Regions from separate parts of the Homo sapiens genome. Here regions 2, 3, 4, 5, 6 and 7 are each reported to be linked to region 1. Evidence: microRNA targets listed by miRTarBase, many of them from high-throughput screens and not tested one by one. Region 1 holds a microRNA gene; each other region holds the end of a gene's coding sequence.
Evidence for each region. Region 1 holds the annotated microRNA hsa-miR-766-3p (ACUCCAGCCCCACAGCCUCAGC, at 1,549-1,570, opposite strand). A microRNA usually pairs through its seed, bases 2 to 8, with sites in the 3' UTR of a target mRNA and lowers its output. Matches are read on the target gene's strand: a 7mer-m8 pairs with bases 2 to 8, a 7mer-A1 pairs with bases 2 to 7 and ends in A, and an 8mer does both.

Region 2: miRTarBase lists RAB3D as a target of hsa-miR-766-3p. Seed matches in the 3' UTR shown: 7mer-m8 at 1,915-1,921 and 7mer-m8 at 2,580-2,586.
Region 3: the mRNA of KAT5 is a reported target of hsa-miR-766-3p. The part of its 3' UTR that is shown has no 7-base or 8-base seed match.
Region 4: miRTarBase lists MTRF1L as a target of hsa-miR-766-3p. Seed matches in the 3' UTR shown: 7mer-m8 at 2,476-2,482.
Region 5: miRTarBase lists ZNF772 as a target of hsa-miR-766-3p. The part of its 3' UTR that is shown has no 7-base or 8-base seed match.
Region 6: miRTarBase lists EHD4 as a target of hsa-miR-766-3p. Seed matches in the 3' UTR shown: 7mer-A1 at 3,211-3,217 and 7mer-m8 at 1,652-1,658.
Region 7: the mRNA of SCRIB is a reported target of hsa-miR-766-3p. The part of its 3' UTR that is shown has no 7-base or 8-base seed match.

Annotation. Positions count from the first base shown.
Region 1 is chrX:119,645,215-119,649,278 of GRCh38, forward strand. It overlaps MIR766 (microRNA 766), which reads right to left and starts at 1,634; the gene lies at 1,524-1,634. All of the region lies in intron 5 of SEPTIN6 (septin 6), which reads right to left. RefSeq lists an enhancer at 2,688-2,867.
Region 2 is chr19:11,322,079-11,326,142 of GRCh38, reverse strand. RAB3D (RAB3D, member RAS oncogene family) reads left to right here. Exons shown (of 5, transcript NM_004283.4): 5 at 558-4,064. The coding sequence ends at 745. It also overlaps a transcript of TSPAN16 not described here. Among named protein-coding and RNA genes, the nearest start is that of TSPAN16-AS1, 2.8 kb to the right of the region's middle. RefSeq lists an enhancer at 1,686-1,895.
Region 3 is chr11:65,718,433-65,722,496 of GRCh38, reverse strand. KAT5 (lysine acetyltransferase 5) reads right to left here. Exons shown (of 13, transcript NM_182710.3): 11 at 3,748-3,907; 12 at 3,543-3,624; 13 at 2,893-3,450. The coding sequence ends at 3,316. It overlaps RNASEH2C (ribonuclease H2 subunit C), which reads left to right and starts at 1,699. Exons shown (of 4, transcript NM_032193.4): 1 at 1,699-1,910; 2 at 2,080-2,255; 3 at 2,333-2,452; 4 at 2,688-4,064. The coding sequence starts at 1,739. The coding sequence ends at 2,714. RefSeq lists an enhancer at 1,554-1,623 and a silencer at 1,774-2,013.
Region 4 is chr6:152,986,341-152,990,404 of GRCh38, forward strand. It overlaps MTRF1L (mitochondrial translation release factor 1 like), which reads right to left. Exons shown (of 7, transcript NM_019041.7): 7 at 1,022-3,755. The coding sequence ends at 3,555. Among named protein-coding and RNA genes, the nearest start is that of FBXO5, 5.3 kb to the left of the region's middle.
Region 5 is chr19:57,469,496-57,473,559 of GRCh38, reverse strand. It overlaps ZNF772 (zinc finger protein 772), which reads left to right. Exons shown (of 4, transcript NM_001144068.2): 4 at 1-3,974. The coding sequence ends at 286. Among named protein-coding and RNA genes, the nearest start is that of ZNF772, 6.0 kb to the left of the region's middle.
Region 6 is chr15:41,897,152-41,901,215 of GRCh38, forward strand. It overlaps EHD4 (EH domain containing 4), which reads right to left. Exons shown (of 6, transcript NM_139265.4): 6 at 1-4,030. The coding sequence ends at 3,494. It overlaps LOC105370792 (a long non-coding RNA gene), which reads left to right. Exons shown (of 4, transcript NR_135681.1): 3 at 1-370; 4 at 1,016-1,664. Among named protein-coding and RNA genes, the nearest start is that of SPTBN5, 5.1 kb to the left of the region's middle.
Region 7 is chr8:143,787,375-143,791,438 of GRCh38, reverse strand. It overlaps SCRIB (scribble planar cell polarity protein), which reads left to right. Exons shown (of 37, transcript NM_182706.5): 36 at 1-50; 37 at 131-514. The coding sequence ends at 276. It overlaps IQANK1 (IQ motif and ankyrin repeat containing 1), which reads right to left. Exons shown (of 14, transcript NM_001381874.1): 8 at 2,376-2,524; 9 at 2,196-2,250; 10 at 1,911-2,003; 11 at 1,570-1,678; 12 at 1,375-1,468; 13 at 1,168-1,302; 14 at 794-1,089. The coding sequence ends at 831. Among named protein-coding and RNA genes, the nearest start is that of MIR937, 24 kb to the left of the region's middle.

The DNA.
Region 1 (4,064 bases):
ATCAATTCCTAAAGGCCCTACCTTTTTTTTTTTTTTTTTTTTTGAGACGGAGTCTCACTCTGTCGCCAGGCTGGAGTGCAGTGACGTGATCTCAGCTCACTGCAACCTCCGCGTCCCGGGTTCAAGTGATCCTCCTGCCTCAGCCTCCCGAGTAGCTGAGACTACAGGTGTGTGGCACCATGCCCAGCTATTTTTTTTTTGAGATGGAGTTTTGCTCTTGGTGCCCAGGCTGGAGTGCAATGGCGTGATCTCAGCTCACCACAACCTCCGTCTCCTGGGTTCAAGCGATCCTCCTGCCTCAGCCTCCTGAGTAGCTGGGATTATAGGCATGTGCCACCATGCCCGGCTAATTTTGCATTTTTAGTAGAGACGGGGTTTCTCCATGTTGGTTAGGCTGGTCCCGAACTCCCGACCTCAGGTGATCCACCCGCCTCGGCCTCCCAAGTAGCTGGGATTACAGGTATGAGCCACTGCGCCTGGTAATTTTTTGTATTTTTAGTAGAGACGGGGTTTCACCATGTTGGCCAGGATGGTCTCGATCTCTTGACCTTGTGATTCGCCCACCTTGGCCTCCCAAAGTGCTGGGATTACACGTGTGAGCCACTGCACCCAGCCCCGACCTCTTAATACTATCATACTGGCCACACCTGAATTTTGGAGGGGACACAATCAAACCATAGCACCACCTTTACTGACTTGTGTCTAACTTAAATTCTTCTTGTACATTGTAAAGTACTTAATAATCCAATTGGCGTGAGTTACTTTATTCTTATTTCACCACATCCATTATACTTGGGAGGCTAGGTGACTGCTTAGCCCAGTGAAATACACACTGTCAGAACTCTTTATTCCTCATCTAATGATAATATTCTGATTGGGCTTGGTTTCCTCCCAGGGTGGACAGTGTTTCCCAGTTATGTTAGTCCCCATTTCAGGCCCCTGCTGGTGACTGAACAAGACCATTGGCTGATTTGCTCTCAAGTCAACCACTGGTGATTCCTGTAAAAGTACATGGCAACAATGGAAATACCATTGCTGTCTCAGAGGAAGGGATGGACTTGTGCCTGTGGGTCTTCCTATGACCCTACTGTTCAGCCATGTGTTCTCACTGGGCCCAAATGTCAATTGCCTTTGTGGGAACCAAACCCCAGACCTCACAAATGGACAATTAATGGAGCTCAGTCAATTAAGTAACTGGGCCTTTTTGCTGGTCCTGGCCATGCTTTCAGCCATTCAAAGAACATCATTAAATTTAAAATAACATAGCAATTCTTAGTATTAAAGTCTACAACCTTGAGAGATATCAGAGCATGGGTTGAAAATAGCATGCAACAAGACCTCGCTCTCCCTTCTCTTCCCCCTCAATCTACAATAAGGTTTTCTGGAGCCACCCATAATTCAAGGTGGTGGCAGGGACCTCATTACTCTCATTTCCTGCCACAAAAATCCCCCATGGTGAGAGACAGGACATTGTACAGTCTTCTCCACTCAGGCAACAGATTTCTTCCGCTTCTTCCAATCCAGCTCCTATGACAATTGGCTGGGGTGGCTGAGGCTGTGGGGCTGGAGTCAAATCCAAAATGAAAGACCAGCACCAATTCCTCCTACCACCCAAGCCCAGGTCCTGAGGATGCAGCTTCATACACCACGGCTTGTGTGAAGACTCTGGGGACTTTTGACATAGTTGTTCGGTGGCAGGCAGGCTAAGCAATCCTCTGTGTATATTTGATAGCACCCTCTTTCCCATCACAGCGCATGTAACACAAAACACTCACATGCAAGCTCCTCTCACAGGCATGCCAATTCAGGCACACTAGCTGTGAGGCCACTCCTCTCTTTCCCACTCAAAAAAAACCCATAGTGGATTAGCCGGGCATGGTGGTGCATGCCTGTGGTCCCAGCTACTCGGGAGGCTGAGGCAGGAGGATTAGTTGAACCCAGGAGGTGGAGGCTACAGTGAGCTGAAATTGATTGCATCACTGTACTCCAGCCTGGGCGACAGAGTGAGAGCCTGTCTCAAAAAAAAAACAAAGCACAGTAGGATGCAAGGGAGTAAGTGGTGAGTGATTTATGATAGGGATAATCCTGAATCCACTGGAATTCCCTGCTCCTCTCCTCTCCTCCCCTCCCCTCCCTTCCTCCATTCCTTCCTTCCTTCCTTCCACTGGAATTCCCTCCCTCCCTCCTCCCTTCCTTCCTTCCTTTTTATTTCTTTCTCTCTTTCTCTCTTTATTTACTTTCTTTTTCTTTCCTTTCCTTTCTCTCTCTCTTTTTTTTTTTTTGTGAGACAGGGTGTTGCTCTGTCACCCAGCCTGCAGTAGTGCAGTGGCTCGATCAGGGTTCACCGCAGCCTCAACTTCCCAGGCTCAAGTAATCTTCCCACTTTAGGCCACCCACCGACCAAGTAGCTGAGACTACAGGTGTGCGCCACAGCACCAGTTAATTTTTTCTTTTTTGAGATGGAGTTTTGCTCTGGTTGCCCAGGCTGGAGTGCAAAGGCGAGATCTCAGCTCACTGCAACCTCTGCCTCCTGGGTTCAAGCGATTCTCCTGCCTCAGCCTCCTGAGTAGCTGGGATTACAGGCATGCGCCACCATGCCTGGCTAATTTTGTCTTTTTACTAGAGACGGGGTTTCTCCATGTTGGTCAGGCTGGTCTCGAACTCTTGATCTGAGGTGATCCACCTGCCTTGGCCCCCGAAAGTGTTGGAATTACAGGCGTTAGCCACCGCGCCCGGCCACTAGTTAATTTTTTTTAAATTTCAGTAGAGATGAGGTCTCACTATGTTGTTCAGCCTCGAATTTTGTTTCTCAAAGTGAAACACAATTATGAGTAATAAAGGACCCAGAATCCCTTCACAGCCATAACAGCATGCTTGACAACTGCTGCTGCCTAGCTTGGGGGTTTCCAGCCTTGAGGTTGAGCCTACCCTAGGCTTAGCAGGAGGCCAGAGCTGAGCTGAGAACAGAGCCCAGGATGATTATCACTCCTAATCCATGAGGTACCAAGATGTGGTTCTGTGTGACACCTTGAGATGGCTGAGTACTCTCAGTCCCTATTTATTCTTAGCAAAGCAAACCACAAGCCTGCAAGCTGCTTGATGACTTAGGGCATCAGTGTTCAGAAGGTCTCTATGGGGACTGATGTCCTGAGGTGACTAGACGCTTCCAGACATCAGTGCCCGTGGCACCCAGATGACACTTCTCGCGAGGCTCCCGTTTTTCTGCAGACTAGGCTGTCTCTTCATAACAGAGCCTAGTTTCCATCAAAATGCCCTGACTTCTCGAGAGGACAAGTGCTAATCTTTTTTATTTTTTCCATGCCCACGGCCGGTCAGAGAAGACCTATCTCTACCTACCATGCTCCAGATAGCCTTACCCTTGAGCCAGATTTGTCTAAGATGGTGATGGTGATAACAAACACATCTCGGGTGTACTGATGGACAGGAAGTCAGGAGAGACAATGACTTGCTGCCCTGCTATGCTAATTTGTTGGCCAATTCATAGGAGGTGGCAGCTGAAGTTGTAATGATAACTTAGAGGGCAGTGGCAGCAGGAAAGTTTTCTAAAAATGGCTTTTATTACAAGGCTTTCCTGAGTTTGGCTATACCCAGGCATTATGTCATTAGGAAAAACTGATGACACTCAATAGAGAAAAAGAAATCTGTTCCTAAAGCGGAGGCTTTCTGAAAGCTATTAGCTGTCTCCTTGAAATCACAACATTGAAGATTTCACAGCAACAGCAACACATTGTAAGGAAGCATTAGGAGATGTTTGCATCTCTGCCTTCTTTATTACTCATTTCTCTAGTAGGAGAAAGTGGGGGAGGAGAGGAAAGATGGCAAGGTTTTTTATTATTATTATTCATTCACACTTAATAAAGCAAAGCATAACGCTGATTTTTTTTTTTTTTTTTTTTTTTTTGAGATGGAGTCTCACTCTGTCGCCCAGGCTGGAGTGCAATGGCGTAATCTTGGCTCACTGCAACCTCTGCCTTAGCCTCCAGAGTAGCTGGGATTATAGGCGCACACCACCACGCCTGGCTAATTTTTGTATTTTTTAGTAG
Region 2 (4,064 bases), not on the chromosome of region 1:
TCAAGCAATTCTCCTGCCTCAGCCTCCCGAGTAGCTGGGATTACAGACGCGTGCCACCATGCCCAGCTAATTTTTTGTCTTTTTAGTAGAGATGGGGTTTCACCATGTTGGTCAGGCGGGTCTTGAACTCCTGACCTCAAATGATCCTCCCGCCTCGGCCTCCCAAAGTGCTGGGATTATAGGCATGAGCCTCCTCACCTGGCCGCCCATCTACTTTTTAAAAAAATTTATTGTAGAGATAGGGCCTTGCTATGTTGCCCAGGCTGGTCTTGAACTCCTGGCCTCAAGCGATCCTCCCGCCGTAGCTTCCTTTAGTGCCAGGATTACAGGCATAAGCCCCTGCGCCTGGCCTGCCACAGATTTTTATCATTGGTAGGATCATCATTCCCATTTTACAGGTGAGCAAACTGAGGCTTGGAGTGGCAAAGGCACACAACCAAGGTCCCACAGCAGGATAAAGAGCAGAACTAGGCTTAGAAGCCAGGTTTCTGTGATGCCACAGCTGAGACTCTGCCCTCAGGGGTCTTACGAGTGTCCCCACCTTAACATTCATCCAGGTTTCGAGTTCTTTGAAGCCAGTGCCAAGGAGAACATCAATGTGAAGCAGGTCTTCGAGCGCCTGGTGGATGTCATCTGCGAGAAGATGAACGAGTCCCTGGAACCCAGCTCCAGCTCAGGCAGCAACGGGAAAGGCCCGGCCGTGGGGGATGCTCCAGCCCCCCAGCCCAGCAGCTGCAGCTGCTAGAGATGGCCCCCAACCCCCCACCCACCCCTCTCCTGCCTCGGCAGGGACTGTGATCGAGGCGTGAGCCACAGTGGTTATCTCCAAGCTCAGGGCAATCCCTTCCCTCCTGTCAACTGCTCCCCGACTCCTGCATGGCTCATTCCTTCACAATGTCGCCGTGGCTGCCAGGTTCCTCAGGCAGCCCCGGTGGGAGGCTGCGGACCATGGGGACTCAGCTCTGCATGGCAGGCAGAGGCCCAGGGACACTGACGTGCATGAGCTTGCTGCTTTCCAGGGTGTGTTGAGGGTGGCCATGGGTGACACGTCCCACTCTTTCTGATGGAGGGGCATCCGTGGTGCCTTCTAGCTTAGAACCATTTTCCAGGTCTCTTCTGGGTTGGGCAGGACTGATATTCCCAAGCTGGTGGAAGATGGTTCATCTTCCTCGCACAGTGTGGGTTCTTGGAGTTCATCCAGGGAAGGCGGCGCCTCTTTCTCAGGTCCTGCAGGCTGGTCTCTGAGCCTGCCCCCACGAACTTTCTGGATTCCAAGGTGGGATGGTGATCCCTTTGACCCCTGCAGACCCTCTACTTGCGAAAAGCAGCATTGAAGCAGCCTTTTCCCATTGTAGAAGGGACAGGGAGTCAGATCCCCTCAACCCCCCGGCTTCAGGGACCCCAGAAGTGCCTTCCAAGCTTCCCCCAAGATCCACATCACCCACGACCCTGCCACTGTTTTTGCTGTGTTCACCACATCTCTGATCCTGAAGTGAATTCTGGAACTATGGACCACATTAGACTGGGCAGAGATTCGCCCAACCCCTAGCACTCCGGCTCTGGGCTTTCGGCCAGAAGTTAATTAACCTCAGAGCCAGGAGCCTGGGGCTGGGGCCTCCCTCCCAGGCCCTGTTTAGCTGTTTAGCTGGTTGTGTTTTAAGCAAGTTCTTGCCCAATCATGCATCCTGCTAGAAAAGGAAATGAAGCAACGTTCCCAGCCACCGCAGGCAGTTGTCGGCGACTTTCTGATGTAAGCACCTGGGCTCCGACTTGAGGGGGGCCCTTCAAGACCCAATGTCCATTTCCCAATCCTTGTCATCGGCAGGGCCCAGGGATGTGACAATTTTTGCTAATGGAGGAGTCACTTCTTTTTTTTTTTTTTTCTTTTTGAGATGGTCTGGCTCTGTCACCCAGGCTGGAGTGCAGTGGTGCAATCATAGCTCACCACAGCCTCAAACTAGGGGTCACTTCTAAGGGATGCTGGGGGTTGGGCGGAAGGGGTGAGGAGGTAGGATTGAGTAACTTGCTGTCACTGCTTGTACTTTGTAGACAGCCTGAGAGTGGCAGGACCTTATGTGAATGGGGGGGATGGACTGTGATCAGTGCCGGGGAGTCTCTGAAGCTGGGGTCCCCACCTCCAGGGGCTTCTGCTCAGAGGTTACGTGTGCAGTTTGAAGATGTACATCTTGACCTCCGGTTTAGAGGCACTTTCTGCCCATCAGATTCCAAACTCTAGGGGCGCAGCACCTTTTCTTTGCTCCCAAACACCAACCAACACCCCTTCACAGGACCAGCACTGTTAGGATGGCTAAGTGGATGTTTTATGTTCCCACGTCCCTGACTCTGTTTCAGAGGTTGTGTCTGCTCTCCCAGCCCCTGAAGCCAAAATGACTTCCTGCAGCTTTCATGAGCTCAGCCTCTTCCCTGGGGTATGTGTGAGGGGGAAAGCCTGGTTCAAGTTTAGATTTATTTCTAGGGAGCCCTGGTTTCTTCATACCAGAGGCTACCCTTAGAACTTTGGAGTGGGGTATCTTTTTTTCATTTGTTTTTTTGATACAGAGTCTCGCTCTATTGCCCAGGCTGGAGTGCGGTGGCACAATCTCAGCTTACTGCAACCTCCACCTCCAGGGTTCAAGCGATTCTCCTGCCTCAGCCTCCCGAGTAGCTGGCATTACAGGCACCTGCCACCACACCCGGCTAAATTTTGTATTTTTAGTAGAGAAGGGGTTTCACCATGTTGGTGAGGCTTGTCTCAAACTGACTTCAAGTGATCCACTTGCTTCGGCCTCCCAAAGTGCTGGGATTACAGGCGTGAGCCATCACGCCCAGCCGAGGGTATCTTTTATACCAACAAATTAGATGACTGAGGTGTAATGGACAAATCCTATGCACAAAGTGAGGGTATCTGAATATGTGGGCGGGAGTCAAAAATTTTTAGCTACTTTAACACTAAAGTCAAACTAAAGTAGCTTCAAAAAGACTTCTCAAGATGCAGTATGGCCTGCTGAGGTTTTTTTGTTTTTTTTTTTTTTAAGACAGAGAGTCGCTCGTCGCCCAGGCCGCAGTGCAGTAGCATGATCTCAGCTCACTGCAACCTCCACCTCCCGGGTTCAAGCGATTCTCCTGTCTCAGCCTCCTAAGTAGCTGGGACTACAGGCACCTGCCACCACGCCCATCTAAGTTTTGCATTTTTAGTAGCGACGGTTTCACCTTGTTGGCCAGGCTGGTTTTGTTGGCCAATTGTCTCTAAACTGCTGTCAAAAAAAGGAATGGATCAGATTGTCTTGAATAGGGCAGAGCTAACCTGTAATCACCTGTGTGATGAGAAACAGCTTTGACTGCATTTTACTCCTGACCTGGCCTAAGCTTTCTGTTTACATAAGATTTTTCAAGAATTCAACTTCAAGTAGCAGCCGAGAGAGCTGCCTCAGGATTCTCTCAAAAACTGGGAATAATATGGGAACATTTGTTTCTTCTAAAAATAAGGCAAATGTTACATTGAATGATTTGGGGGGTGAGGTTTAATTGGAAATGGTCTCTGGGGACTGAAAACTGATGTTTTTGCAGATTACCTCAGGGAAACGGAGGTTTGTTGAGTTTACAGACACATTAAACCAAAGGCCGTGGGAAAACCCCTCTCCAGCTCCAGGGGATTGGTCAGGACCACCCACTAACCAGTGCCTTCCTTCTTAACATTCACTTTTAGCAGCTTGTGTTTATTTTACATGGGCAGTTTTGATGGGAAATTGCCATGACCACAGGGGTTTGGAGTTCTGCTTTTTTTTTTTCTTCTTCTTTTTCGGGGGACTGGGGGACTCCTCCCAAGATCACATTTTAGCATCTTTCTCTCCTACTCCATTTAGAAAAATAAGTAACAGGTGAAATGTGGTCTCAGTGTTAACGGGATAATTCTGCTACCGGCTCCTCCCTGATGATTCTGAAATACACTACTGAACGAGCTCTGGCTGGTCCTTTCTATCCTGGATGTGGTTCTTCTGTGTAGCAATTCCTTGATGTCCAGTTTGGAAAGATGTACTCTTCTCAACAAGAAAAACTTAAATCCG
Region 3 (4,064 bases), not on the chromosome of region 1:
GTTCAGTGATTTCAGTCAGGGTTTAGGGAAGCCAGGCTTCTCTCTGGCTTGGATGCTGTCAGAGGTGGGGGTATGTCTATGACGGACTATCTTAATGAGTCTTGCCCAGAAGGAGAGAAGATTAGTTGGAGGCTAATGCTGTAATTGGTAAGGAAACAACAGTCACTCTCTTATGGGAGAAAGAGGGATGTTTCATGCCTTTTGTGGTTTGGACAGTGTTCACCTTTGCCAGCATTCAGATGTGACGATGGAGTGGTTCTGTTTCTGTCTTGCTCCCTCACGGTCACAGAGTGACCTTGTCCGATGCTGATGTTCTCTGAAATTGTTTATATTCAACAGAATACCAAGGCCAGCTCCCAGATGTGCAGGGATGTATAAATTAAACGCAATTTAAATCTAAATTTCCAGTTTTGTGTTTGTTTTATGTGAGAACTTGAAAAAATATATCTAAGTTGGGTGTCTGAACAAATAAACATTAGAGAAGAGCTGAGAAACCAAAGAGAGAAAATTGTGAAATCTAAAAGACTGAAAAGTGTTGATAAATTTGACTACAAAAAATTAGTCTTTGTCCTGGGTGCAGTGGCTCACGCCTGTAATTCCAGCGTGATTTGGGAGGCCAAGGTGGGCAGATCACTTGAGTCCAGGAGTTCAAGACCAGCCTGGGCAACATGGCAAAACTCCACCTCTACCAAAAATACAAAAATTAGCTGCGTGGTGGCGCAGGCCTGTGGTTCCAGCTACACAGGAAGCTGAGGATGGGGGATGGATTAAGCCTGGGAGGTCGAGGCTGCAGTGAGCCAATCAAACCACTGCACTCCAGCCTAGGCGAGTGAGACCTTGTCTAAAAGACCAAACAACCACAAAAATAAGTCCTTGTCCAGCAAAAATCACCTTTACACAGGTTTGCAAGACAGACCACAGATAAAACATTTTCAATGCATTTAAGAAAAGGGTTGATGTCCCTAATAAACTAAAAATGAATAACCTACCTACTAATCAATATAAAAAGAGTACTTTTCAGAATCGTTTTAGATTTTTACAACGACATGTGCCATTAAAAACAATAAAAGAAAAAAACCCGGCTGGGGGCGGTGTCTCACGCCTGTAATCCAAGTACTTCAGAAGGCCGAGGCTGGAGGATCGCCTGAGGTCAGGAGTTCGAGACCAGCCTGGCCAACATGGCGAAACCCAGTCTCTACTAAAAATACAAAAATTAGGTGGGCATGGTGGTGTGCGCCTGTAATCCCAGCTACTCCGGAGGCTGAGGCAGGAGAATCGCTTGAACCCGGGAGGCGGAGGTTGCAGTGAGCTGAGACCGTGCCTGGCACTCCAGCCTGGGCGACAAAACGAGACTCTGTCAAAAAAAAATAATAATAAATAAGAAAAAGAAAGAAAGAGGGAAGGACGGGAAGGAAGGGAAGGGAAGGGGGGAAGGAAGGGAGGCAGGGAGGAGGGGGAGGGGGGAGGGGGAAGGAGGGGGGAGGGGGAAGGAGAGGGGGAGAGGGGAGGGAGGAAAGAGGGGAGGGGGGAAGGAAGGAAGGAAAAAAACAAAACACAACTGGAAAACCCTAGGACTTGAACCCAGGGAAAGCGTTAGGGGGTAAGGGGACTACACTTCCCGTGAAGCTCCGCGGCGGCTTCCCGTGAGGCCCCGCGGAGGCTTCCTGAGAGGTCCTGCGCGCTTTCCGCGCCAGCTTCAGTGTCAGCTCGCGAGCCCTGGCGTCGCGTAGGAGGGAGGATGGAGAGCGGCGACGAAGCGGCCATCGAGAGGCACCGCGTCCACTTGCGCTCCGCCACATTGCGCGACGCCGTACCCGCCACACTGCATCTGCTGCCCTGCGAGGTTGCGGTGGACGGGCCCGCCCCGGTGGGGCGCTTCTTCACGCCCGCCATCCGCCAGGGCCCCGAGGGTGAGCCCTGCGGCCGGACTACGGCTCCCGGCAGCCCCCGCGCCGGCCTGCGCGCTTCTCATCGCCTGGGCTCCTGGGGATCGTGGTCCGTCCGGAGGTGGCGGGAGGGCAGCTCCGGGCTCGACCCAGCGTGGGTCCTGCCTGAGGCCCTTTGCGCCTCCCGCTCCAGGACTCGAAGTGTCGTTTCGGGGCCGCTGTCTACGGGGAGAGGAGGTGGCGGTGCCGCCTGGCCTCGTGGGATACGTGATGGTGACAGAAGAGAAGAAGGTGTCGATGGGGAAGCCAGACCCCTTGCGGGATTCCGGGACTGACGACCAAGAGGAGGAGCCGCTGGAGCGGGACTTCGTGAGCAAAGGGATAGGGTTGAAAGGGGGTGCGGGCGGGAGCTGTAGTCCCGATGCTGAGCCAGGCCCCTTCCCCAGGACCGCTTCATTGGAGCCACTGCCAACTTCAGCCGCTTCACCCTGTGGGGTCTGGAGACCATCCCTGGCCCGGATGCCAAAGTGCGTGGGGCCTTAACTTGGCCCAGCCTTGCGGCAGCGGTGAGTAGACGAGGAGTTCCGTCTTGCCCCCGGGTGGATGGGCTGGGGAGCACAATTGCGCAGACGGAGCCTGGAGGATTCTACTGGGTAGTGTGTGGGAAGCGTAGCTCCCTGACCACTCTTCCTAGCATGTCTAGAAGCGGTTATTCTGAACAGCTGGGTCCTTCCTCGGGTATGGGGGCCAGCTTGCCGCCCTGTCTTACAAGTCCAACAGTAGAGGCGACTCCTGTTGCAGATTCACGCACAGGTGCCCGAGGACTGAGAACCAGAGCTTGAAATTCAAAGCTGCGATCCCTTCACAGCAGTAAACCAGCTCTTTGGAACCGATTCCATCACCCCAATAAAGGAGCTCTTCACAGCACCTGTGAGTCTGGGCGCCTTAGAGCCCCTAAGCCAGCATGGGCCCTTTCCCCCTCCCCACCAAGAACTTTGCATGGCTCTGGCATATAGAAACAATTTATTGCCGGGGGCAATAGGGGTAAGAGAAGCCAGAAATTTTTGCAGCCAGCACCCACCCCACCCCCAACTTCTACTTTACAAAAGAAATTTTTACAATCACCAGCCCTCTGTACAGAGCTCCCCCATCCGGATCCCTTCTCACTGTACACAGCTGCCTGGCTCCCTCTGGTCCCTGCTTCAGAGGAGGCCTGGGCCTGTGGCCAGCTGACCTTGGAGTTGGTCTGAGCCCGGAGCTCGCCTTGGTGCTGGGCACCAGTGGGCCCCTGCCAGGCCTGTCCTCTCCTTTTTGAGCTGTCCTCAGCCCCATCTCCCTTAGAGTGCTTTGTGGGAGCTGCAGTGGGGGCGGGGTGGGCTATCAGCCCCAGTCCTGCTGCCGTCTTGGCACTGCAGTGGGCAGTGTCTGGTCACCACTTCCCCCTCTTGCTCCAGTCCTTGGGAGTGAAGTGCAGACACTTGGAGTCGATCCGCAGGAGCCGCTTGAGCATGGCCCGCTCATGGCCATCCACGATGTCCTCTGACAGTGTGAGGATGTACTGGCCCTGGGCAGAGGAGATGGGTTCAGCAGGTGGTCAGCCCACAGAGGACTGCACTCTGCATCCCACACACCTGTCTCCCCTGCCTGCCTCCCTACCTTGTAGTAGTTGATGAGATTGAGGTACTGCAGAGTGGAGATGACATCCTCCTTCTTGATGCTGGTGATTTCACTAATCTCACTGTGGGAGAGCACAGGTCAGGTTCCCTGAGGACCTTTATCTGTCCCCAGGAGCCCTGAGAGAGAAAGCCCAGGAACAGACAAGCCATGCCATGTACCCCCAGGTAGACAGCGCCAGGCTCACTTGATGGTGATCTGTGGCCTCTCCCCGCTCTCCGACTTCAGCCCCATCAGGATCTCCAGGATGGTCTGGGACCAGTAGCTTCGATAGGATAGGAGGCCAAGGTCTGAGAGGGGCTTCTCAGGGGTCCCTGTTTTCCCTTCCACTTTGGAGAGTTCATAGCCTAAAGCAATGGAGCAGGAGAGGGTGAGTAAGAGGTCACAGATGAACATAAGCAACATTTAAAAACACAGGTTGCCAAGGCAGGCTGCCTAGTTCCTATCATGGCCCTGCCACTTGGCAGTTCTATGCCCTCCACTTCTCTGTGCCTCAGTTCCCTC
Region 4 (4,064 bases), not on the chromosome of region 1:
GTATACACCTCATTTTTCAAATCAGCATCAATCAGTTGTTGGGTGTTTAGGTGGAACATGAAGTGCAGAGAGAACTGCCCTCATTCTTTCGTAAAATTCTTATCGCAGACCTATCACATGCAAAACAATGGGATATATGGAAATAAATGGGACATGACACCTGCCCTTGTGCTTATTATCTGTGGGCTTGCCACATAATAGCCATAATAGGTGTTCAGTAAATAATTTCTGAATACCAATCAGGCATATCTGTGGGGGTAAGGTGTATAAAATAAAGCTATGTGGAACACTGGATGAGTCAAATACATTTAAATTTGTGGAAATTTTGGCCGGGACTGGTGGCTCACACCTGTAATCCCAGCACTTGGAAGGCCTAGGTGGGCAGATCACCTGAGGTCAGAAGTTCAAGACCAGCCTGGCCAACATTGTGAAACCCCATCTCTACTAAAAATACAAAAAATTGGCCAGGCATGGGGGCGGGTGCCTGTAATCCCAGCTACTTGGGAGGCTGAGGCAGGAGAATCATTTGAACCTAGGAGGCGGAGGTTGCAGTGAGCCGAGATCACGCCATTGCACTCCAGCCTGGCCAGCAAGAGTGAAACTCCATGTCAAAAAGAAAAAAAAAAATTGTGGAAATTTTCATAGAAAAAAAGGAGTTACTTCTATGTACCAGGATAAGGGAATAATCTGTAGGACAGGGTTTCTTAACCTCAGCACATTTTTGGCCAGATAATTGTTGTAGGATGTTTAGCAGCATCTCTTTTATTCCATCTTCCAGTTGTGGTAACTGTCTCTAAACGTTGTCAGATGTCTCCTGCGGGGGCAAAAGACCCTCTGGATGAGAACCATGGCTGTAGGGGATGTCTTCTGAAGAAATGGGCACAAAGGAGGCCTACAACATAAAGAACAAAATAAGGGAAAGGGTAAATGCAGTTGCATTTATCAGGATAATTTAATTTGATGTGGCATGGGGGGTGGTGTATAAAGTGAGCTAATACAAAATGATGCTGGATACAGATCATGGATGTATTGTATACACAGTGGAAAGCTGGTTTTATTTGGGAGACAATGGGAGCTTTTACATTGTTGAGCAAAGGAGTGACGAGATCAGTCTTGCTTTTTAGAAAGATTAGTTTGGCAGTTACTTATTTGTAACCAGAATTAGACAGCAAATCGGATGCAGGGGAGAAGTCAGGTGACTATTAGTCTGCGAAGTAATTCTGGACAAGAGCAGTGGTAATGGAATTGAAAAGGATTAAAAGTGTTTACCAGGTTTTAGCAATAAATCCAATGCGAGGAAGAGGAACGTAAGATGACATTTTAAATTTGAGAGTGGTAGTACCATTAAAAACTAATGAATTTTGATTAACTAGTGCTTTAGGCCCTTTGAAATTATTTTGAATTTTGGTTCTTTCTGAACAATGCACCAGATTTCTAGACAAATACTTAAGGTGTTTTTAGACATCTATTTAGTGCCTATTATAGCATGGTGTTAGCTTCCGAAGAGACAAGAATGATGAAAATACAATCTTATCCATTAGTGGCATTGTGAGAGGTCTAGCAGTAACTTGTTCATCCTATGCCCTGATCCACCCTTTCTCATTTCCTTATTAAGCACACAATACTGAGACCAGAATAAAGCAGTGCATTTACTACCTTGTGAAGAATGTTCAGGTGTTCAGGTATGGTATCTTCATTTTGTGCTGCTATAACAGAATACAGGAGACTGGGTAATTTGTAAGGAACAGAAATGTATTTCTCACAGTTCTGGAGGATGGGAAGTCTAAGATCAAGGAGCTGGCACTTGTTGACTAGGGCTTTCTTGCTGTGTTCTCACATACAGAAGGCAAGCTAGCAGGATGCTCCCCGAAACCTCTTTTATTATGGGCCTTCATCCCAGTCCTAAGAGAATCCCTCATGGCCTAGTGATCTCTTAAAGACCCCACCTCTTGATGCTGTCACATTGGCAACACTTGAATTTGAGGGGACACATACAAGCCATAGCAAACTGAACATTTCTCCCATGCCAGATAGCACCATGTTCTTTGTCAGTAGGTGGTGGTAGAGGGGCACTGCAGGATAAAGGGGCTTCTTTCACTTCTAAGATGATACTGTGACAGTTAATTTTATGTGTCAACTTGGCGGGGCCACAGGTGCCTAGCTACTGGGTCATACTTTTTTTTTTTTTTTTTTTGAGATTTAACTTTTGCTCTGATTTTCCAATTATAAGGTCAAACATTATTCTAGGTGTTTCTGTGAGGGTGTTTTATATGAGATTGACATTTAAATCAATCAGTGAACTCTGAGTAATGCAGACTGTCCTCCTCGATGTTAGTGGGCTTGATCCAGTCAGGTGAAGGTCTGAAGAGAAAAAAAGACCGTCCTCTTCCCAGAACAAGAGAATCCTCCAACAGATACCTTTGGACTGGACCTTGCACCATCAGCTTTCCTGGGTTTCCAGCCTCCTGCCTCACACTCCAGCTTTTGGACTTGTTAGACTTAATAATAACAACACAAGCCAATCCTTTTAAGGAAGTTTGTCTGGAGAATCTTGACAAACACAAACATCTACTGAGAGTTCCTGTCCAAGTTTTGCTCACACCCTAGCAAGAGGCTTCTGGCTTACCAGTTGGGAGTGTGAGGTTCTTTGCTTGTAAGACCTGATCCACCAGCGGTACACCAGCTCTGGCCCAGGGCAAGACAGGGAATTTCCCAATCACTGAGTAGGCTGTAGCCACTCTCTCCATTAGGCCTGACTTCACCATGGGGAAGGGGAGACCCTTTCAAGGGTATTCTTTCCTGGGGTACTCTCAGTCCTAGGACATCATAGCTCTCTTTCATCCCTCTTAAAAGTTAATACCATTATCAGTTAACAGTTTTTATATTAAAATTATCCCTGTTCAAGTTAATGGTATGGTTTCTGTATCCTGACTGGATATTAGGATACAGTATTTACTGTCTTATTTCTACTACTTTATGTTTAAAGTTTTTCATAATATTTAAACTGAAGTTTTGATCATTCATTAAATATTTACACAGAACAGGACAAAGGATGATTTTCCTTTGTCTAGTTATTGTAAGGTAGCGTCCAAGATTTACCACCACATCATGATTACAGATGGTCACCAACTTATGTTTTAGGATTTTTTGACTTTATGATGGGTTTATAGGGATGCAGCCCCATTTCAAGCTGAGGAGCTCCTTAGGGCTTAGGAATCATACCTCTTTCACACCATGGTAAAGTTGGAAAATTGTTAAGTCAAGCTGTCATTAATTAGGAGACTGCTGTGTTGCTAACGTTATATGCATTTTTAACTTATGATGGGTTTATTGGGAATTAACCACAATGTAAATCGAGGACCATCTGTATATTGTATGATTTTTGCTAATGCATTGAGAGAGATCTGTGTAAATTATCTATGACTTCAGAATATGCATATTACCTCCAACTGTGTTAACTCAACGTTTTTCAAGAGAGTAAGGGTACTTTCACCCTATGTGGATGTACTGTAGAATTTTTCTAAGCTACGAAAGTCTATAAATAACAAATCAACTTAAACTTTTTGGGAAATAATTTCTACTAAAGATTCATAATCGGCGTATTCCTTCAATGACTGTACAAGTTCATCCAGTAGATAATCTCCTTGCATAAAAGTTTCAAGATCATGCAGCGTCTTGTTTATTCTGTGATCTGTGACCCGGTTCTGTGGAAAATTATATGTTCTTATTTTCTCTGATCTTCCTTTACTTCCAATCTGTATATAGAGAAAAAGATGAGATGCAGCTAGATTCAGGGCAATTTAAACCTACAAATTTAACTTATTTGGAGACTTAAGTTCTTGATTTATAACATGAATCAAATGCGAGAACCAGGTTTTAAACACTTAGAATCTCAAATGACATGGGAACATGATATAGAAAAAAGAACACGTGCTCTAAAATCAGATTAATATCTGAATCCTGCCTCAGCCACTTCAATGTTCTATGACCTCGGGCAACTTAGTTTCCCGATCTGCAAAATACAGTGTCTACTACACAGTGATGATGACAATAGAGCCTGGCAC
Region 5 (4,064 bases), not on the chromosome of region 1:
ACATTGGAGTGTTCATACTGGAGCAAGGCCTTATGAGTGCATCGCATGTGGGAAGTTCTTTAGCCAAAGCTCTGACCTTATTGCACATCAAAGAGTTCATAATGGTGAAAAGCCTTATGTGTGCAGTGAATGTGGAAAAGCCTTTAGCCACAAACATGTACTTGTTCAGCATCATAGAATTCACACTGGAGAAAGGCCATATAAGTGCAGTGAATGTGGGAAGGCCTTCAGGCAGAGGGCTTCCCTCATCCGCCACTGGAAAATTCACACTGGAGAAAGGCCTTAGGATGGGAGATAATTCCGTTTCCTTGTTCAACATAATAACTGACATCAGAGAGAAGCTCCAAGCATAGCCTTTATGTGTAGCCGACAGCCAGAAGTAGAACTTTATACACTCAAACACTCACCCTGGGGAGGTTCTTCCGAGTGCCAGCTATATGGGAAGCCTTCTGGAGCTATGCTGAATTTTCTAGACTCTTGCTGGAATTTCGTCAAGGCAGTGCCTGTTAGAAGCCATCTGTCTTTGTGCTGGAAGAGTCCTGCCTTGTGCCAAAGTAACCCCAATGTGTTTCAAAAGACAGACCTCTGTACTATTCCCTTCCCTGGAGGGAATCATCAGTAGCCTGAGGCCATCAAGGATTCTCACTTTTTTTCTGCCCCACTACTGGTTTAAGCATGAGCATGACCCAGTTTTAGCCAGAAAAATGGGAGCTTTGTTCTGCTGACCACTGGCAGAGGTTTCCCTTCATGGATATAGTTGATCTCACATGGCACTTGGGACGAATTTTTCTAGCCTTCAAGACACCTGACCTGAAATTGGCTGCCTCATATTCTGGTTTTGCAACAAATGCCTTAATTTTTAGACTATCTGAAATCTTGAGGATTCTGTTCGCTTTGTGGGTTGGGTTGAGAACAGAATTGAGCTAAGCCAGTATGAAGGGAAGAACAGCTTTTGTGAGAGCTCCAACTATCTGTATCTCTGAAGTGATAGTAGGATGGCAAAGACTAGCTCTTATGCTAGTGTCAAGCTAACTTACTTGACTGCTTCAGCTCTCCTAGGAAAGAATGCCAGTCTTTGTAGGCCTAATCTTTTGGTCTATATGTTAAGATTTTTTGTGTAATTGAGGTCACCCTAAGCAGTGGGCATTTGTTGTGATAATCTCTAATGTGTCTGGGAGCAACATGAATTACGTCCCTTGTTCCCAGAAGATACTTCATATTCCCAAGGCTTCTTGAGGAGAATTTGAACTCAGTGGACATGTCAAGATCTCTGAAGTCTATTTTTCAGTAGGCAGTTGATATTGGCTGTCCTCCAGAAGGCCCAGGTAGGAATCATAGTTGGTGCAGAAACCCAGATTAATAAAGGAATGAGAAAACTGCAGCAAACTATAGGGAATATGACCCTTCTAAAGGTACATCCACATGTGTTTCCATTACTCTGGCTCCATTATGAGGGTTTACAGAAATATTTCCATACCTGTGTCTCTTATGGCTAAGGTTACTGTCCAGAAGTCAGTCTAAACATTTTTGCAATAAACTGCACATATTTATAGTGTACCATTTGATAAGTTTTGATACATGTTGGCACTTCTCAAACCAAAAGTTTCCTGATTCCTTTTATATTTTCTCCCTTTCCTTCACCCATCCCCAGGCAACTATTGATCCGTTGTCACTGTAGATTTGTTTGTATTTCCTAGAATTCTACAGAGATAGAGTAATTTAATATGTATTCTAATGTTTTTGGCTTCTTAAACTCTGAAATTAAGGCTCATGGTGGTGTTCTGTGTTTCATAGTTCATTTCTTTTCATTTGTACTTTGCTAAGAGTGTTCCATTGTAGAGAAATAGTTTCAAAGCAAGTGATCCAGGAGAGAACTCACACAAGAACAAAGCCACAGTATCTGTCATTACCTTAAACTGAAAGTGATGAGCCGTCATTTCTGCTATATTTCATAAGTAACCCTAGCTAATCCTGGTTAAAAGTGGAAGAGAACTACACAAAGGTGAAAATAGGGATTTGTGGGGCGTTTTCTTGGACTCTGGTGACCATAATCCTATATGGTTTTTTTCTTTTTCTGTTTTAGTTGTTTAATATGAATTACATTGACTGATTTTTTTAAATGTTAAGCCAACCTTGCATTTCTGTAATAATTCCCATTTGGTCATGATGTATTAGTCATTTAGTATATTGTTGAATTTGATTTGCTATTTTGTTTTGTTTTGTTTTGTTTTTTTGTAACAAGTTTTGCACCAATGTTCACGAGTGATATTTGTCCCTAACTTTCTTTCTTGCTTGCTTGCTTTTTTTTCTTTGTAATTTTATATCTTGCCCAGGTTTGGCTTTGGTATCAGCATAATGCCAGCTTTATAGAGTAAGTTGGGAAGTATTCCTGCTCTTCAGCTCTCTGGAAGAGTTTGTGAATAATTGGTATTATTTCTTCCTTAAATGTTTGGTAGAATTCACCAAGGAAGCTGTCTGGGCCTGGAGTTTGTTTTGTAGGAAAGTTTCTAACTATAAGTTTGATTTCTGTGGTAGATAGAGGGCTGTACAAGTTATATGTACATCTGTCTGTGTGTGTGTTGTCTGTCTGTCACTCTGGCCCTGAAGTGTGTTTTGTAGGACAGCATCTAACTACAAGTTTGATTTCCATGGTAGATGGAGGGCTATACTAGTTATATATACATCTGTCTGTCCGTCCATCTGTTTGTCACTCCATCCATCCATCTATCTCTAGAGTGAGCTTTGATGGTTTGTGTCTTTCAAGGAGTTTTTCTGTTTTATTTAAGTACTCAAATTTTTCAAAATATTATTTTCATACTTGTAGAATTTGTAGTGGTGCAACCTCTTCTATTCCTGATACTGGTAATGTCTATATTTTTCTTTTAACCTTGATTGGTTTGGGTAGAGATTTATCAATTTTACAATTTTATTGATCTTAAAGTACTTGGTATTATTGAATTTTCTGTTTTCTGATATTTTGGGATTTTTCTTTTCCATTTTGAGTTTTACTAATGCCTTCCGCTTTTATTGGATTTCATTTCTTTTGCTACTTTTTAACATGGAAGCTGAGGTCCTTCATTTCAAACCTTTGGGTTTTTTTCCCCTAATATGGGGAAGAGATGTTAATGTTAAAAATCTATCTGAGAACTGCTTTAATTACCTCCCATCAAGCTTGATGTGGTTTCATTTTTTTTTTTGAGACAGTGTCTTGCTCTGTCATCCAGGTTGGAGTGCAGTGGCGCGATCTCGGCTCACTGCAAGCTCTGCCTCCTGGGTTCACACCATTCTCCTGCCTCAGCCTCCCGAGTAGCTTGGACTACAGGCGCCTGCCACCATGCCTGGCTAATTTTTTGTATTTTTAGTAGAGACGAGGTTTCACCGTGTTAGCCAGGATGGTCTCGATCTCCTGATCTTGTGATCCGCCTGCCTCAGCCTCCCAAAGTGCTGGGATTACAGGCGTGAGCCCAGCCGATGTGGTTTCATTTTAGTTGAGTTTAGGATGTTTTCCAGTTAAAAAAATTCTTCTTGACACATGGCTCTTTTTAAATGTATGTTATTTAATTCCTAAATATTTGGGGATTTTGCTTATCTTTCTGGTAGTTTCTGCAATAATTCCATTGTGGTCAGAGTACATTAAGACTTGAATTATTTACATTTATTGAGATTTGCTTTGTGGCCCAGAATATGGGCTATCTTGGTATGAGTTACATGTTCACTTGAAATGTATACTGTACTCTCGTTTGATGAAGGGGTTCTACAAGTGTTGATTAGGTAAAAATGGTTGATGTTATTTAAGTTTTTTCTATCTTTATTGACATTCTGTGGTTTTGGTTCCAGCAATTATTTTAAGAGGATTGTTGACATCTCTGAATATTAAATTGGATTTACTTCTCTGCAGTTCTGTCAGATTTTGCTTCACATATTTTAGTATGTTTTTATTAGGTGAATAATAAATATTTCCTATTTTATGTCCACTTGATGTGTTGACCACTTTATCATTATGATCCTGTTAATCTCTGGTAATATTCTTTCTCTAAAATCTCCCTTGTCTGATACTGTTAACA
Region 6 (4,064 bases), not on the chromosome of region 1:
TGTATTAGGCCCGCATTTACCTGAGTAAACTCAGTGGTTTTCTGTCCTAAGCATGCTTGCCTGCTACATCCCATGGAGAAAATAAACAGTGAAACACTTTCCTCATCTTCAAGGCAATTGTCTCAGGCATCCTCCAGGCATCATGAAGGAGGGTGAGCGAGGGTGCGAGGTGGAAAGGTCCAGGCCGCGGCTGTGACTCCCGCGGGTGAACCACAGCTCCACAGCCCCAAATCCAAAGATGCTCTTGCTGCAGCACGACAAGTGTTCAAAAGAGAACCAGGCCCAGCCCGGAGAAAGGAAAGCCAAAAGCCAACTGAATGAATGACCCTCCCCCAGAAGAGCAACCCTGCCCCCAGGCCATCCAAGTGCGGTGAGTTGAGAAATGAATTGACAGACGCTGCAGGGCTGGAGCAGGAGGCGGAAGCAGGTTGGAAGGCTGTTGTGTGCCACCCCTCCCTGGGAGCTGGGGAGATTCCCAAGTCTTAGTGCAGTGTTTCTCTACAAACGGGGTCAGGAGACCCTCACTGGCAGGCTGACAACTTGGAAGCAGACTGTGGGAGCAATAGGCTGGAGTTTTCATTTTCCCTTTAAACTCAAGACCGGAAGGTTTGTGTTATGCGATACCATATGCTGTGTAGAAAACAGGGCCTCAGCTTCTTAGATGTTGTAGTTCTAGAGTTTAGGTACTTCCACCCTCTCTCCTATACATAAACACTCTGTGGAAGAGGTTCTTTGAAAATTGGGGTGGTGCAGGAAGGGCAACGGTGATGGTGAGCAGGCCCCAGGGTCGGCCCTGCCGCCCTGCCGTGTGGGGTAGGGAGACAGCTGGTGGTGTGGACACATTCACAGAACTTTGTACTGGTCCTGGGAAGATACAAGTCCTCACTTGGTCGCCATCCCTCATATTTTCTAGTGTTTTCTTTTCCAGTCAACTTTTCTTGATGAATGACTGCATGTAAGAGGATATTAAGAAAAGTGGCCAAATGATTTCCTTTTTTTTTCCTTTCTCTCCAAGAACATTACCAGGTGCCAGCAGGGAAAGGACTCCGCTGCCTGACGCCTCTCCCACCTGAGAGCGCAGAGGTAGGGAGATCACAGTGCCTGAGAGGTTTTCCTCCACGGAGAAATCAGAGACCTCAACCTGCTGCCCTCTAAAGCAGCTTTCTGTATCCAGACAAAACTTACATATGTACACGTTGTTTTAAAACGACATACTCATGTGACACACATGTATATAAATTCATGTTTATATATGACAATTGAGGAGAGTTAAAGAACAAGATAATTCTGGATGGAAAAATCAGTTTGCCTGGGCATCTGTAAACCTTTGGGCAAGTGAATTCCCTCTTCTCTCTCAGTTCACCCTTTGGTGACCTCCACCGTGGCTGCAGACTTCAGGTGGTCCTCACGCATTCACAGAACTGTCTGCTTAGGTTACAGCACTTTGGGAGGCCGAGGTGGGTAGATCACGAGGTCAGGAGATCGAGACCATATTGACCAACATGGTAAAACCCCATCTCTACTAAAATACAAAAATTAGCCGGGCGTGGTGGCGGGTGCCTGTAGTCCCAGCTACTTGGGAGGCTGAGGCAGGGGAATCACTTGAACCTGGGAGGCGGAGGTTGCAGTGAACTGAGATTGCGCCACTGCACTCCAGCCTGGGTGACAGAGACTTCCTCTCAAAATAAAAATAAAAATAATAAAATAATAAATGGTTCTTTTCTATGCGTCTAATGAATTTAAGTGCTTGTTAAGACTAAAAACCATGTTATGCATTTCCTGCTCTTAAAACTAAATTATGTAGAAAGTAAGCTAGGGAGTGTAAGGGTAGGCATCTGGATATAAATGCTTCTCCCAAATCAAGATTTTCTCTTCAATCTGTGCCTTTGACCCTGTCACCAAAGGCAGGTGACAGAAAAAAAAAATTATGTGCCTTTTGGAAGACTCAGTGGGACGGTTCTGATTTCATTCACTTCTGGTGCCAGCAGGCCCCCATACCATGTGGCCATTGCTGTTTCGTGTCTCTTCCTGCATAAATAATGCAGAGAGGCCATGCAGGTATGCAATTTTCTGGAGATGAGGCAGGGAGATTTGCAAGGAAAAGTCACCTACCTCCCCAAGCTGGTGCCCACAGAGGGGGAGGCACCTCCACCTGACGCAGGTGTCTGAGCAGCAGTCCAGAGAGGTTTACTCAGGGGATTTGGGGAGCGCACACTCTGGAGCAGAAGTACAGGTATGTGCCCGAATCCTGCCTCGTGATGGGCATTCATGATACGAACCACACAGCCTTTAAAGAAAAGGTTTTATATGAAAGGTTCCATTTTGTTTCTGTATAAAGGCTTTTATCCTGTAAGGAAAAAAAAAAAACACAAAACCCTAGACATAATAAATGCCTGTTTTCTACAAAAACAATGTCTAACTCTGGGTGGACTGATCTCTTCTCAACAGCCCAGGGCAGGGCTGGTCCCTCATTCACCTGTGTCCACAGGGCCGAAGACACTGCACACACTAGGACAGGATTTGATTGAATTTAAATCCTGCCACCCACCAAGGAGACCTCGGGATATTTAATGTTTGAGGGCCACACTAAACGATCACTGCAGAGAACCACCTCTTTTCTTTACTGTAGTTTAAGTATGATAAGTGGGCTTTGCTATTACTTATTGGAAAAACCAGTAAGAAAAGCTAATTTTCAGGCTTCAATGTGATTTGACATGCAAACGGGAAGTTTTGCCAGGGGTTAATAAAGGTTGTGAATTCCAAATTCCTAGCCGAATATGGCTTTGCTGGTAAGCCCCCTGGAAGGGAGGTTGGGAGGGCTGACCAGATGGTCATCGGGGCACTGGGATGGAGGCACGCTGGGGCCTGACTGCCTGCTCTGCTGGAGACTGCAGAATGGATGGCAGATCCACAGTGCATCCCCCTTCCAAACCCAGGAGGCATCTGTCGCCTTCTCTTTGGTAGACAGTCTGGAGACAGCAGAAACCCTCTGCTCTATTTTTTTGCCACTCTAAATATAGCAGAAAACAAAATAAAATAAATAAGATAATCTTTGCTGCCTCCAGGTGCCCTCTGAGGGACAGACAGCTGCTCCAGAGTTGTTCATGAGGACAAAAAGCCCAGGCAGCCTGGAGACCCAGCTGCTCTGGGTGAGCCTTAGCTCACTTCCTGTGGTTCCTGGGACTTACCAGGCCCACCCCCATGCGCATTTCTCCAGGCAGGTTCTGAGGACTCTTTGGACAATTTCTCTTTCTTCTCAACCCTTCAATCTCCTAATCCACCCCCCTACCCCCAATATTTTCATAGAAACTAAGGGAATTTTGGAGGTGAAAGAAGTCATCTAGTTTCCAGTGTCCACCCTCCCCATTCTACAGATGGGGAAACCAAGGCACAGAGAGGGCAGTGCCTTGCCCAAGGTCATTCGGTGAGTCAGTGGTGGAGCAGGCCTGAGGCCCAGGTCCCCCAGTTCCCACCCCGTTCTGCAGCCCACCCCTCAGTCGGCCTTGGGCAGGGACTTCCTGTGCGAGGGGGGCACGAGGTGGGGGGGCAGGCTGCTGGGCAGCTCGTAGCCGTCGAGCTTGATCTTGATGAGGTGCTTGGCCAGCGCGAACTCCTCCTCATCAAGCATGCCGTCGCAGTCGCAGTCGGCCAGCTTCCAGATCTTGCCCAGGACGCTGTTGGGCAGCTTGGAGGTCACCATCTCCTTCTTGGCGTTGACACCTGATATCTTGCCATTGATGGGCGACAGAGTGTAGAAGAGCTCGTCGTAGACGGGCTTGTCTTTGGCCACGACCCACTCCTCCTCGTCGGCGCCCTCCTTGGCACCCTCCCCGTAGCCCTGGTTGAAGGGGCCCTCGGTGGTGCCATCGAAGGCGCCGCCCTGCACCAGCTGCGTGGGCGTGCTCGTCTCCTCCTGGCTGATGAGGTTCATGAGGGGCGAGATCTTGTTGCTCAGCATGTTGTCCACTGCCTCGATCAGCTTGGGCTTCAGCGAGTGGAATTTGGTGAAGTCATAGTTCTCAAGCTGTTCCTGCAGAAGGACAAACCACAGGATGGGTTACATG
Region 7 (4,064 bases), not on the chromosome of region 1:
ACCGGACTTTGCTGAGGAGTTGAGGTCCCTGGAACCATCTCCCAGCCCTGGTGAGTTGGGGCCGGGCTGGGGTGAGCTCCCAGGAGCCCAGCTGCCCTCAGCTCACTGCCCACCTGTCCCTGCCCTCCAGGCCCGCAGGAGGAGGATGGAGAAGTGGCTCTGGTGCTTCTGGGCAGGCCCTCACCCGGCGCTGTGGGCCCTGAAGATGTGGCACTGTGCAGCAGCCGCCGCCCCGTAAGGCCTGGGCGCCGTGGCCTGGGCCCTGTGCCCTCCTAGAGGAGCAGGCACCTCCCCCAGACTTGGGGTGGGGGCCCTGCCAGCTCCAGCACCACCCTTGCCCCAAGTCTTTTAACCTGGGTGTTAGCATTTTAAAGAGACCCCACAGGAGTTCTGGCCTGTGACTAACTAACTGCCCCACCCCAGCCGAGACCTCGGCGAGACTGTAACTAGTGATGTTTGTACAACCAAAGACTCTATTTTGTGGTTTAAGGAGAATAAAGTTGACTACATTTTACCTCCCGTCTGCCTGTCCATCCCCCACCCACTAGCACAGACCCTTCCTGCCCTCCGAGGCGAGGCTGAGCTCCGAGGGCTGCACCCTCACCGTCCCTCCCACGTCTCCCGCTGCGCCTCACTGCGCACGGGTCGGCCGGGCAGGCTGCCCATCCCCAGCAGGGCCTCCCCCAAGTGCCTGCAGACCCATGTCCGCCGGCCGGGGCCCGGGACTGCCGGAGTCCTGGACTGGCACACGCCACCGCTGCCCCCACGCACGCAGCACAGATGCAGCACCGCGCCCCGGGGCACACGTTTTATTGGGACTGGGGCCAGCACTAGAGGCCTGTGCCTGGCAGCTGCACGCGCACTGGGAGCAGCACCTGCAGCTGCTCAGCTGGCGGCCACTGGACCTTGGTGACGAAAAAGAGGCGGAAGTGCTCCAGCCGCTGCTCCTGGAACTGCGTGGGGCTATACTCAGGCCCGTCCGTGGGCCGCAGCAGCGACAGGTACCTCTCCTGCACCGCCTCCAGCTGCCGCTGCACGACTGGGAACAGGTCTTCCTCTCGCAGGTCGAACACCAGCGGCTTCCCATACCTGCCCCATGAGGCTGGTGAGGCCAGGGTGGGGCTAGGGAGGTGGGGTGGGGTGTACCTGTCACCCTGCCTGCCTCACCGCAGAGCCCCCAGCAGAGCCAGCCACATCGTCTCCGGCCTCAGGGGCTCCGGGTTCACCGTGTCCACATAGTTGGTATCCTGGTAGCGCAGGAAGGTGGCCGCCTGGCCCAAAGGGTCAATAACAAGAGGCCACCTGGGGACACCCATCAGGTCACTGCTGTCTGTCCAAACCCCAAATCGCCCACGTCTGGCCCGGAGAACTGACCGGCCATCGGCACGGATGCGGTTGCCTACATCTTTCATCAGCACATCGTGCAGCTCGGTGACCTGGCACTTCAGCCCAGGCGCCTCTTCCTCCCCTGTCGGGGTAGCAGAGTGCAGCTGACAGGCAAGCCCGACGCCGGACCCCGCCCTGGGCTGTATGTCCCAGCCCCCAGCCGGCGCCCCATGCCAGGCCCACCCTCCTGCGTCTGCTCCCGAAGCTCCAGCCTGGCCATAGCCAGCGCCTCCTCGGCCTTCTGGGCCTCCTGCCGCAGCCTGTCCACCTGGGCCTCTGTGTCCTTGATGGCCTGGAGGAGGAGGCCACACTGACTTGCTTGCCCTGCCCCATGCTCTGGCTGGAGAGGGCAGCTGCCCGAGCTTCCTCCCCACCCCACCCCAAGCAGGCCACTGTCGGCTGGTGACTCCCCATGTTTGAGAGGGAAAAACCCCAGGCCTGGGAGCGGGGAGCTCTGGGCTGGTTTGGAACAAGGAGGGGTGTTGAGGACGCAGGGGCATATCAAGTCCACCACGGGCCCCCACCTGCAGCGTGAGCTTGGTCTTGTCCATGCACCTCCACTCACACTGGTCGTGCTCTGAGATCCTCCGGCTAAGCTCACAGTAGGCCTGTTGCAGCTGGGTGGGCGTACGGGCAGGCCCTGGCAAGGCTGGCCAGTATCCTCCGACCAGGTCACTCCTGGCCCAGGGGCCTGAGGACACCTCCCCTCCTGGCTCTTCCCCCAGCTTCCTGGCCCTCCCTCGGCTCCCCCTCCTCCCCACCCGGCTCTCCCTCCTCCTTTCCTGGCTCCTCCCTGAGGTCACACTCACCTCCTTGTGACACTGCTGCTGCTCCCTGGTCAGCTGTTGGACCTTGAGGGTCATACTAAGGAGCAGGAATGAGCTGGGACAGAGGCTTCCGCCAGCGCCCCCACCAGCACCCCCTGCCCGGGCTCCCTGCCAGCGCCCCTTGCCAGCACCCCTCGCCAGCACCTCCCACACCCCTCCTGCCTTCCACACCGCTCAGCCTCGGCCTCCTTGTGCCTCTGGGCCTCCTGGGCCCGGCGCTGCTGCTCAGCCTCCATGTTCTGGAGCATGGCCTCCGTGAGGCTCAGGTCCCACGAGCGCAGCACGCTCACCACTGTGTCCAGTGAGGCCACCTAGTGACAGACGACATTTGTCGGGCCCTCAGTGCGTGTTCCGAGTCTCCTCAGCCTGGAGAGGAACTGTTGCTCTCCCATCTGGGAGAAAGGGTGCCATTATGCAGAAAGGGCCTCAGTGCTCACAGCTGGTGCGTGGTGGGCCCCAAAGCATGAGCCCCTGTGGGGCTGCTGTCCCCAAAGCCCAGGCCACCCAGGCCGCTGGGAATTCTCCTGGGCTCCCTGACCAAGTCCAAGCAGGAACCTGCTCCTGTGGCTGGGCCTCCAAGGGCTTCCTTCCCCTTCAGTCCCCCAGGACCTGGCCCAGGCTTCCCGCCTCTGTCAGACTCAAGTACACGCCTGAGGCCTTGGGTGCCACTGCTGCTTCCTGAGTAGGAGGCTGGCCCGCAGGATGTGCACACTGGAGCTCCCTCCTCTGTGGTCTCCCACAGATCTCTGCCTGCAGGACACAATCCCTGGGGCCGCCGCTGCCTCTCACCCTCCTGAGTCCCCAGCACTCCAGGAGCAAGGAGTGGGTGCAGAGAGCCGGGCTCAAAGCCCAGCTGCGCCGGGTGAGTCCCTGACTTCCTGTGCCTGGCCCTCCTTGTCTGTGGAGCAGGGGTGATGCTTGGAGGGGGTCACAGTGAGGAGGAAGGAAGAGCAGGAGCTCAGAGCAGGTCCACATGCGCCTGGTGGCGGGCCAGTCCCGGCATCACGCTTGACCAGGAAGCTGTTCGTGGGTGGCTCCGTGTGTGAATGCCACTTGCCCCTTCCTGCTCTGGGAAGCAGGGGTGACCAGGGCCTGTTGTCTAGTGTGGCCAGCTCCCTAATAGCTGGATGACAGCGGAAGGAGGCAAGGCGGTAGCTGAGAAGGGCCGGGTGGGGCAGGGAGACTCTCATACTCGGAATTAGGCCTGCGAAACAGTCGGGGCCCGAGGAGCTGCTGGCTGGAGAGCAGAGGCCTGGGAGAAGAAGAGCAGGTGGCTGAAGGTGGGTGCCACAACCAAGAGCAGACCGAGAAGGTGTGGCAGGCCTGGCGACGGGGCCAGGTGGAGGTGGACAGGCACGGGCCATGGAGCAAGCAGAAGGCACTGCGTTAGGGGTGCGCGGGTGAGCGGCCGCATTCCCACAGAGCAAGGGGTTTGTGGCGTGGGAAGGATGAAGACAGGATGAGGGGAAGGAGGTGGGGTGCGCGGGTGAGCCGCCGGCGTTCCCACAGAGCAAGGGGTTCGTGGCATGGGAAGGATGAAGACAGGATGAGGGGAAAGAGCGGGGGCAGGATGAGTTCCCTGTAGCTCTTCCAGGAGACTGGCCACAGACAAGTGCAAACAGGGAGACTGAATGTGGGCAGAACTGGGAAGAACTCACAGATGCACGGGAGGGAGGGAGACACAGCAGACGAGAGGGAGAGAAGCAGTGGCGCGGCGTGGCCTTGGGTAACTGCCATCCTGGCTGAGTCGGTGCTGACTTAAGCATTTGTCTACAGATGCAGGGGGCAGAGATGGAAAGAAGGGGCAGTGTAGGGGGCCTGCAGGTCTGTGGGGGGCCAGGGACATGCAGA